Regions from separate parts of the Homo sapiens genome. Here region 1 is linked to region 2. Evidence: fine-mapped QTL for protein levels in blood plasma. A gene starts in region 2. The other region holds a variant in brackets. All regions are shown on one strand. Distances are between the middles of the regions.

What was found. A credible set is the group of variants that fine-mapping cannot tell apart. PIP is the posterior inclusion probability: the model's chance that the variant is causal. The UK Biobank Pharma Proteomics Project read protein levels with antibody pairs (Olink). The fine-mapping took linkage between variants from a reference panel, not from the people measured, so its PIPs are less certain.
Region 1: its variant is the best candidate, but not a certain one, in a credible set for the plasma level of the PI3 protein (UK Biobank, PIP 0.55).

The regions. Positions count from the first base shown.
Region 1 is chr20:45,134,046-45,139,423 of GRCh38, forward strand. LOC101929863 (a long non-coding RNA gene) reads right to left here and starts at 4,984. Exons shown (of 3, transcript XR_936751.3): 1 at 4,772-4,984; 2 at 4,472-4,629; 3 at 3,393-3,852. RefSeq lists an enhancer at 4,798-4,857. The variant G/C (reference allele first, on the strand shown) is at 2,972.
Region 2 is chr20:45,171,641-45,177,018 of GRCh38, forward strand. It overlaps PI3 (peptidase inhibitor 3), which reads left to right and starts at 3,262. Exons shown (of 3, transcript NM_002638.4): 1 at 3,262-3,361; 2 at 4,221-4,496; 3 at 4,730-4,904. The coding sequence starts at 3,283. The coding sequence ends at 4,495. RefSeq lists an enhancer at 2,852-4,051.

The DNA.
Region 1 (5,378 bases), 38 kb before region 2:
ATTATTTTTAATAGTTTTGTGTTTTACCCTTAATACTAAAAATATTTGATTTACACGCCACCATTATAGTATTAGAGTATTCTGAATTTGACTATGTACTTACTTTTATTAGTGAGTTTTATACTTTCGTATGTTTTCATCTTACTTATTAAAATCTTTTTCTTTCTGCTTGATGAACTTCCTTTAGCATTTTTTGTAATACTAGTCTCTTGACAATAAAGTCCTCCAGCTTTTGTTTGTCTGGACAATTTTAGTTTCTCTTTCATTCCTGAAGGACAGTTACTTTTTTTCCTTCAGCACTGTGAATATATCATTCCACTTTCCTGGTCTTTAAAGTTTCTGCTGCAAAGTTCACTGTTAGCCTTATTGGAATTCCCTTATGTGAAGTGCTTTTGCTTGCTGCTTTTAGGATCCTCTCTCTGCTTTTGATTTTTGACAGACTGATTGTAATCTATCTTGTTGTAGTGTTGTTTGGTTTAAATTTTATTGAAAGCTTTTGACCTTCCTATACCTATATATTTATGTCCTTTCCCAGATTTGGAAAGTTTTCTGCTATTATTTATTTAAATAAGCTTTCTACCCCTTTTTGTCTCTTCTTCTTAAAATCCCATAACTCGAATATTTGCTCTTTTGATGCTGTCCTAGATATTTCATAATCTTTCTTCACTACTCTTCATTTTTTTTCTTTTTTCTCATTTGAGTGTATATTCTAAAATAACTTTTCTTTGAGTTTACAGGTTTTTTCTTCTGCTTGATCAATTCTGCTGCTGATGCTCTTTATTGAATTTTTAATTTCATTCATTGCATTTTTCAGCTGCAGAATGTCTGTTTGATCTTTTAAAAAATGGCTTTACTCTCTCTATTAAATTTCTTATTTACTTTTTCTGATTTCATGAATTATTTCTCTGTATTAGTATTATTTTTTGAAGTTCATCAAGCTTCCTAAGAATAATTAGTTTGAATCCCTTGTCAGACAGTATTATATTTCTCCACTTCTTTGAGGTCAGTTATTAGGAGATTATTGTGTTCTTTTGGTGGCATTATATCTCTTTAATTTTTCATATTTCTTGTTCCCTTATGTTACTATCTGTGCATTTGAAGAAGTAGGGACTTATTCCAGGCTTTTCAGACTGACTTTGTCTGGGAGAGCCCTTCCCCAGTCAATCTGTCCAGAGATTCTGGGGAGACCATTGAGTGTGGTCTTTGGGCAGGTTTGAGTGCTTGGGCAGCCTAGCCTGGTGCCTGGGTCAGCAGGTGGGTGGACGTGTTACCTGGGTGGGGTTGGGCCTGGAATCTGTATTCACAGGAGCTAGCCTGAAGCCTGGGTCCATGGGGGCTGGCTTGCTCTTGGGGTGGCCCTTGAGCCTGAGTCTGAAAGGGCTGGCCAAGTACTGAGATGAGCCTGAAACGTGGGTCTACTGGAGCAGGCCTGTAGCCTTAGTCCAAGGGGCCGGGCCTGGGTCCTGGGTCCATGGTGTCTGACCTTGAGCATGGGTCTTCAGGGATGGTACTGGATCCTCAGTGCATGGGGAACTGGCCTGGTATTTGGGTCTACTGGGATGGGCCTGGATCCTGGGTCTGTTAGGGCAATCCTGGACCCTTTGTCTTCTGGACTCTGAGAACACAGAGTCTGGTCTAGAGTCTGGGTTTGGCCTCATGTTGTGGCAGTTGTAGTTCCTGGGTCTGCAGGGGCTTGTCTGGATCCTGGCATTGCAGATGCTGGCCAGTTTCCTGGAGACGTGTGTGCTGGCTTAGAGCCCGGGTCTGTGGGGACCTGCCTGGAGCCTGAGTTTACTGGGGCTGACCTTGGGGGCTGGGTGTGTGGGTGCTGGCCTGGAGGCTAGGTTCACAAGGGTTGTCCTGGGTCCTGGCCATAGGGGCTAGCCTGGAGCCTGAGTCTCTGGGGGCCAGTCTAGTGCTGCGGTCTACTGAGATAGGCTGGACCCTGGGTCTACTAGGGTTTGGGGCCATAGGGAACATCATGGTACTGGCTCAGAGACAGCTAGGGACAGTACTTTTGCCTCAGAGATCACTGAAATTATTCAAACTGGCCAATCTTGAGACACTTACCCTGCCTCACCTGCTCCTTCTTGCAGGAACCACAGAAAAGGTTTGCCCACATTTCTCCCTCACTCCCTCTATCTCTTGACTGAAAAAGGTGCTTTCTATGTGCCCCCCTGCCCTACCCTTCCCATGGCAAGGTGTGGCTCTCCTTTGAGATATGTGAGTATAACAAACTCTCTTTTAAAAGGCAGTAATCTCCTGATATGTTCGCTTTGTCATACCTAAATAATATTAAATACCTAAATAATATTAAAACCCAATTTTTTAAAAAGGAGCTTGGAAGGCAAAGGACTAGAAAATCAGTAGCAAGGATGTCTGTGGTAGGGAAAGAGGACCAAAATGTGAGGAGACATTTACTGTGAAGACTTGTGTATTACATATTAACACCTGCTGGGAAGCATCTATGATAGATTAGACCCTGACAGCCAAGATGAAAAACTCAACAAGTTGACATTAACCAGCTTTCTTTTTTCTTTTTTTCTTTCTTTCTTTCTTTTTTTTTTTTTTTTGCGACAGGGTCTAGCTCTGTCGCCCAGGTTGGAATGCAGAGGTGCGGTCTCCCCTTACTGCAACCTCTGACTTCCAGGCTCAAGCCATCCTCCCACGTCAGCCTCCCAAGTAGCTGGGATAACTAGCCTTCATCACCATACCTGGAGAAGTAACTGCAACACAAGGTAGAGGACAGTGGTGAGCATGGAAATGCACTGCTTAGATCTCCTGCTGCTTCAGGGTGTGCAACTGATGGATGCCCCCAGCTACTGTCCTCTGCATCTGCCACTATGTCTGTGCAGAAGTCATGGATGCTTCCATCAGGTTACTCCCAGCCAATGACTGAGTGAGGCCCGAACACTAAGGCAGGCTCATTCTGAGACCTGGGCCTCTTCTGATAGGTGACTTCAGTTCAAGC[G/C]TTGTCTTTCAGCCTGACTGGCACTTTACCAATGTTGTAATTCATTCTGAGACTCTTCCTCCTTCCTTCTCTCCTCCCTCAGAGCAGGCAGCCCTGCATCATGGTCTCATGCTCTCCTTGCCACTTTGGCTACCTCCCTTTGTCCCTCACAGGCATTTTCCCTGACACACACTCTTGATTACCTAATCCTGTCTAGGTATCTGCTTTTCAGAGTGAGTCCTAAACAAACCTACTCACCTATAGTTTTGGTTTGAATAGTTCAGGAAATGTTGAAAAAAGGGAGAAGAAGAGGAAGAAGATGGGAGAAAAGAACATGCTTTTTTTTTCCTTAATAGTTATTACTATCAAGTCAAGATGATTAAATTCCGTTAGAAACATTAAAAAGATTAAGGTTGCTTTTTAAATGAAAGGACAATATTCATCATATTCTTAAAAGTTTATTCTTTGTAACTATTATGCAATTATGATAAAAATGTTAGATGTCAACTTAAAGCATGCTAGGGAATAATTGGCTTTTCAAAATTTGTTTATAATAGTTACAAATAAAATTTTGGAAGACTTGTCCAGACTTCTACTACCTTTGTGGTCCTTAACTAAATGTGAAATATTAATCATATCCTTTTTTCAGATCCTAAGGGAAAAGCCATAAAGGATGGAGAGAGAGACAGGGAGAGAGAGAGGAGATCCAGCAGTCTTACAGATTTTTCTGTGGTTTTAAATATACAATGCTTTATCTCTTTGTCTTCTTGTCATATTAACAAGCATTTAACTCTGAAATGACATCTTGGGCCTGGGAAGATCATGGACAAATTGGAGACCAGTTATCCAAATCAGAGCCTGTAGCACCAGCGTCTCCTCAGGCTTGGCTAAGGAGTTTCCACCTCGAGAGAGAAGAGAGAATCAGGGATGTAGGAAGGTGAAAAGGTTCAGGGAAGGTTCAGCCTGGCTGGTACTTTGTCAATGCCAGGTGACATGGCATTGCAGGAGACATGAATTTGTGTCCTGGGGCACTGTGGCAGAAATCCTGCTAAGTACTCTCCTTCACAGAAAACTGAGATATGCTGCCCCAGAATCAGGGACTGGGGATCAGGGACTCTAGGCAAGCCATCCTAAGGAATAATGAATTTATAATCCCTGACCTTACAATTTAAATATGAAGAGAAAGGTGCTGTGAAAGGTATCGTGAAAAACTAAAATAATAACAATAAAAATTCAATAACCCTTGAGCAACTTAGAGATTATCTTGTCCAAATGTCCCCTTCATACAGAAGAGAAGGGTGATGCCCCTTATGTGAAATGGACAGTGCATATCCTGAGCAAGGAGGTCTATTGAGCCACCCGCTTCACTGTTCCGAGGCAGATCTGTGGGCCAACCCAACTTGAAAGATCTGATCTCAATGATTTCCAGGGGCATGGGCAGTTATCAACTCCTTCTAAGATGAATGCTTCTGCAGGAAGGTTTCAGGCGCAGCCGAGAAGGGCAGATCTGGGGCTCCTTACCTCAATCCAAAGTCCACCAAAGCTCTGTACACTGATGTTGACAGTTGAAGAAGCAATACTTCTCGATCCCCAGGCAGGCTTTATAGTGCAGCACACAGGTAAGAGGGTGAAAGGGCAGGATAGAGTAAACTCTGGGCAATATCCAGGTTTCGGTGCAGCTGGAGAAAGATGCCACAGGGTGAGTCGAGGGCAACCATAAGTCACTTCCAGGTATCAGGGCCAGCTCGTTCCACGGATTCCTCAGAGGAAATGTTCCCTAACCCCACCCACACCCAGGATTGTCACGCCTTACTCACTCACACTCTTCAGGATTCCAGGCTGAACCATGCGGAGGCCAAAGAGGACGGTCACAGAGAGTAGAGAGAGGCTGCTCAGCTTCTTGGTGCAAGAAAAGGGCGTGGGTGCACCTGGAGGCTGGACGAGTCTATGTCAGTTCTGGCGGGGCTCCACCAGCAGGCGGCGCTGTGGCTCTGGGGGCTGGAGGTCAGAGGTGCCTCAACTTGACCCGGAACCATCAGCTGTTTCCTTTCACCTCCAGGAAGAGATAACGTGAAACCATTTGTGCGGTATAATTTATGAGAGCCCTCGTGGACTGCCTTTCTTCAGGGTGTTGCAGGGCTGCCCTGGCTCTTCCTTATTCTGACTTTATCCAGCGGCTTTTGAGGCAATAGGAGGGCATTGTCTTTCCCCAGGCTTGTATCAGGTCTGACCAACTCCCCTCGTCCCAGTGTGTATCCAGAACAATTGAAACCCACCCCTCCCAGCGGTGTTCACATATGGGTGCGTTTGGGGTACCACATCGAAGTTGAAACACACACAAAGCTAGATATTGTGCTATCAGTAAGATAATTTCTAGATTCATAGAAAATATAAATGCATTATGAACTACAGAGAAATAAGTTTCAGT
Region 2 (5,378 bases):
TTTTTATGTATCCCTTTTTGAGCTTTGCTTCATATGTAAATATGCCTAGGCAATATATTTCCCAGTTCTCCTTCATTTGAGTTTTATGACAAGTGGGTAATTCTAAATATTGTCACTGTGGACTTGTGTTGTTTATTCAACATTATTTTAATTATGGTCATATTGTGCATGGCTGTAATTCAGTTATTTTCATAATTGTATAATACTTCCTTGCATTAATATGTCATGACATATTTATGCATTAATATGTCATGACATATTTATCCAGTATTTTAGTATTGGTAACATGGACTGTTTCCAGTATGTTATTGTTAAAAACAGTACTTTTATGAACATTATTGTGCATGTTTCTTGGTAAACATGTGGAAATATTTTCCTTAATTAAATCTTTAGGAGTGCAATTGCTGAATTATAGATTGTGTACACATTCAATTTTACTAGCTGATGTCAAACTGTTTTTAAATGTTTCACCAATATAGACTCTCATTAGTAATGCATAAAAGTTTCTTTTCTACTACAAATCAATAAGAAAAGATAAACAACCCATTCAAATCTAAAATAAAAGTTGAAATTAAATAAATAAGTAAATAAAAGGTAAGATACTTGAATTGGCACTTCACAAAAGAGGATAGCCAAATGGATAATAGAAATATTAAAAATGGGCCGGGTGCAGTGGCTCATGTCTGTAATCCTAGCACTTTGGGAGGCCAAGGCAGGTGCATCATCTGAGGTCAGCGGTTCGAGACAAGCCTGACCAACATGGTGAAACTGCAAAATATAAAAATTAGCTGGGCATGGTGGCATGTGCCTGTAATCCCAGCTACTTGGGAGGCTGAGGCAAGAGAATCACTTGAACCTGGGAGGTGGAGGTTGCAGTGAGCTGAGATTGTGCCATTGAACTCCAGCCTGGGTGACAAGAGCGAAATTCCATCTCAAAAAAAAAAAAAAAAAAAAAAGGAGTATTAAAAATGGGTCAGCTTCACCAGTTATTAGGAAAGTGTAAATTCAAATCACAGGAAATCCCACAAGATGTCCACCTGAATGGCTAATGAAAAGGCAAATCATATGAGGCATTGGTGAGATTATGGAGCAAATGGAATGCTCACACATTGCTGATAGCAGTGTGAATTGGTACAATGATGTTGGAAAATTGATTGCAGTATTTATGACAGCTGGATGTATCTATACTCTGTGATCTGTACTCTGTGATCCAGCAATTCCATTCCTAACCATATATCCAAAATAAATGCATACCTATGTTCTGCAAGAGATATGTACAAGAATATTCATAGCAACACTATAATAGCTAAAACCTAGAAATATCCAATGTATATTGACAGTAGAATGAATATATAACATTTTTGGTATTTTTCATAGAATACTGTACAGCAGTGAAAATGATGAACTACAGGTGTAGACTTCAAAATGGATGACTCTCAAAAATATAATGTTGAGCAACATAAGCAGGACATATGAACACTATACCTTAGATTTCATTTACATACAAATTGAAAAAGTATACTAAACTGAATATATATTTCAGAATACAGACAGAAGTGGCATAACTATAAAGGAAAGCAAGGGCTAATTACCATAAAATCTTAGGAAGCAGTTATCTCTGGGGAGGAAGGAGAATGAAGCAACTGAGGAGAGGCATGGAGCATAGATATAGCAAATATTCTCCTCCTTTACCTGGCAGCTCATTTTAATGCTATTCTTTAAAGAATATAGGTATTTTCTGTGAGCTTTTTATTTGTTTGTATGGCTTATTGTACAATGAGCTTTTGTGTAAGGTAGCCAAAGGCTTCCACAGTCTGACATTCGTTTATGTCTCCCTCAGTTTCAGGCTTGGTGGGCATGTGGTCAGAGTCTAAATCGACAAGGGGTGGGGATTTCACCAGCTGAATTAGTGTCCAATAATTAGTTTGTTACCTTCCCTGCCTTAACTCCACCTCAACTCAGTGACTTTCTTAACTCAGATTCTGTCCCTGACAATACCCAACTTCAGGATATTCATTTCTATTACTCAGAACTTTTGGTAACAATGACAGAATAGTAAGTCAGACTAGCTGAAGCAGAGGGCTAATTTATTGCCTCATAACCCAACCATGAGAAGGGTGTGTGAAGAACTGCTCTCAAGGTAAAGGAGGGAAACCTGGCTGTGTCATCTGAATCTTCTCTCACCATCACTTCTCTCCTTGTCTCAGTGTATTAGAGTCGTTTTTCTCAGACAATTGATCTCCACCCCCAGACTTAGATAACCACTTCTGGAATTCCCTGGTTCATATATATCACCTTTTCCAGAAGAAGGAACCCCCGTTTTCCCCTTTCATTACTCATTCAAATAAAATATGTTAATAGACCAGACCAAGTCTCACACACAACACACACACACACACTCACACACACACACACACACACACACCCCTACCTGTGGTCAGGGGTCAGGCTTTCATGATTAGCAGTCCCCATTAGACTCACAAGTTGATGGTTCAAAGAGACAACAATTCTTCACAAGAAACAGGGTGCTGTTCAAAGAAGTGGGGAGGCATGCTGGACACACACACTGTAGATGTCCAATGTATACATGATACATGTTTTCTACTACTTTCTGATTATTTTCTCCCTACCACTGTGATTTCAAGGGCATCATCCCTCTTCAGACCTAGAATTCCACCTTCCAATTACTTTCTTGATGCATCTGAAAGGCCGTCTCTGAAACAGCAAAGTGCAATAATTAGTCATTATGTATTCAAGGCAAATTTGTCTTACAGAGTTTTTTGCAGGACCAGGGAAGAAGGAAGGAAATGCCCAGTTTGATGCTGGGAGTGGTAAAATGATAAAGTAGATCTGGGTGGGGTTTGTAGCACCAGAGCATAATGGAGAAACACCTTGGTTTTGTAATCAAGACTGGATCTACCAGTGACTTGCTGAATAACCTTCGGTGATTCCTTTCTCTTCTTGGGTCTCACTGTATTTCAAAACATGAAGAATTTCATTGTAATGTTACCTAATAAGTGAGCCAGCACTTCTACTCTGTGAGAAAGTAGGAAAACTCTTGGGACAATCAGAGATGATGTGATGTAATGTCCATTAGTTCTTCCTGTGAATAATCCTGAGGGAAAGCCCCCAGGTCCCTCCCAGAATGGGGTGGATATTTCCCAATACAGCTAAGGAATTATCCCTTGTAAATACCACAGACCCGCCCCTGGAGCCAGGCCAAGCTGGACTGCATAAAGATTGGTATGGCCTTAGCTCTTAGCCAAACACCTTCCTGACACCATGAGGGCCAGCAGCTTCTTGATCGTGGTGGTGTTCCTCATCGCTGGGACGCTGGTTCTAGAGGCAGCTGTCACGGGAGGTGAGTGAACAGGTGACCTGCTGGGCTGGGTTGGACTAAGGGGAGACCCTCTGGGACACCCTGGGCCAGGACAGGGAGCACTTCTGAAGCAGTAGGCAGCACTGGAGCCCAGATTTCAGCTTTCTGTTCTTTGCCATCATATTCAGAAAAAATAGGACTTTGGCTGGTGGACTCCACGTGCTTTCCACCTCAGTGACTGAGATATCAGGACTGTTTGTGGAAGTAATGTTGGTATGTGGCCTTGGCCTCAGATGTCAATACCTGTGCAGAATGTGCAATAAAATAATGAACTCCAGGATTTTAAACCTTGGGTGTGGACACAGTCCCCCGTTTCTCTGCCCCATAAAAGCACTGGAGTAATCAGTACTCTAAAAGGAGGTTAAGAAACAACAAGCCTTCAGGAATCATGTTGTTTGAGGACCCCCATTTTATAAGGAGGGAACCAAAAATGTAGAAATGAGTGAGCAATTGCCAAGGTAATTCCCAGAGCCAGGATGGGGCTCAAGTCTCCTAGTATGTGGCTCAGGGTTCTTTCCTACTCCAATGCACTTCCTAACAAATGACAATGTGTCCTCTTCACTGCTGGGTGTCACCCCAGTCTGACCACTGCTCCTGAGAGACTTGGAGTGGAGGAAGGGGGAAGAAACAAATACTCAAGGGAACTCTGGTCCAGTAGACCACCCCAAAAAAGGAAGAGCCTTCCAAGAGTGTAGCTCCCAGAGGTGTACCTTCCCTACTCAGGCCATGGTTTGAGGATGCTGCAGTAAGCAGTGGATGGACCCAGACCCAGAGGAAAGACATGGCAGCTGAAGCAGAGGCTTACTGGGTATAAATGTGGGCTCGTTTCTTCTTTTAACAGTTCCTGTTAAAGGTCAAGACACTGTCAAAGGCCGTGTTCCATTCAATGGACAAGATCCCGTTAAAGGACAAGTTTCAGTTAAAGGTCAAGATAAAGTCAAAGCGCAAGAGCCAGTCAAAGGTCCAGTCTCCACTAAGCCTGGCTCCTGCCCCATTATCTTGATCCGGTGCGCCATGTTGAATCCCCCTAACCGCTGCTTGAAAGATACTGACTGCCCAGGAATCAAGAAGTGCTGTGAAGGCTCTTGCGGGATGGCCTGTTTCGTTCCCCAGTGAGGTGAGCACTAGCTGGAGAACGAGGAGACCCCTGAAGACACAAAAGAAGGCTGAGCGGTGGGGAAGCATCCCAGGTTGGTGGGAGGGAGGTTGTGGGAGGTGACAGAAAGACTGGGAGACTGAGGGGTCTGAGAGGCTATAACCAGAGTGCCTAGAAGGATGATCTGTCTTCCTCACTGCCTCTGAGTGCTTTGATGTGCTGACTCTCACCTCTGATACTCTTCTCTTCCACAGAGGGAGCCGGTCCTTGCTGCACCTGTGCCGTCCCCAGAGCTACAGGCCCCATCTGGTCCTAAGTCCCTGCTGCCCTTCCCCTTCCCACACTGTCCATTCTTCCTCCCATTCAGGATGCCCACGGCTGGAGCTGCCTCTCTCATCCACTTTCCAATAAAGAGTTCCTTCTGCTCCACTTGTTTCTGGTTCCTATGACTTCTGGGCTCCTGGATGCTTTGGGGAAATGGATGTAGAATTGGGACTTCTTCTCTCCAGTGAAGAGGGGAAACGGTCCCATGGTGAAAGAGAGCAGGGCGGGGGGAGGAAACAGGAGGCACATTGCTAGGGCTTCATATTACAAATCCAATAATCAGCCCCAGTGCTGCCAGCTCCTTTTCACCAGGAAATGGAAATATGGAAATCTTGCCTTTGGCCAAGGACCAGGAAAAACACAAAACACAAAAAATAAATAAACATTACATAAACCATAAGCAGGTCTTTTTTTTCCAATCCACCATCAGTCCTGACCTGGCTACTGTCGGCCTTACCAGTGTGACCAGCCAACCCTTATGGCTGCAACTACAGCTCCCCACTTCCTTCTCATTAATGTTTCCCAGGAATCTATATCTTTTCAACACCACATAGAAAGGATGATGTTACAGATGCTGCG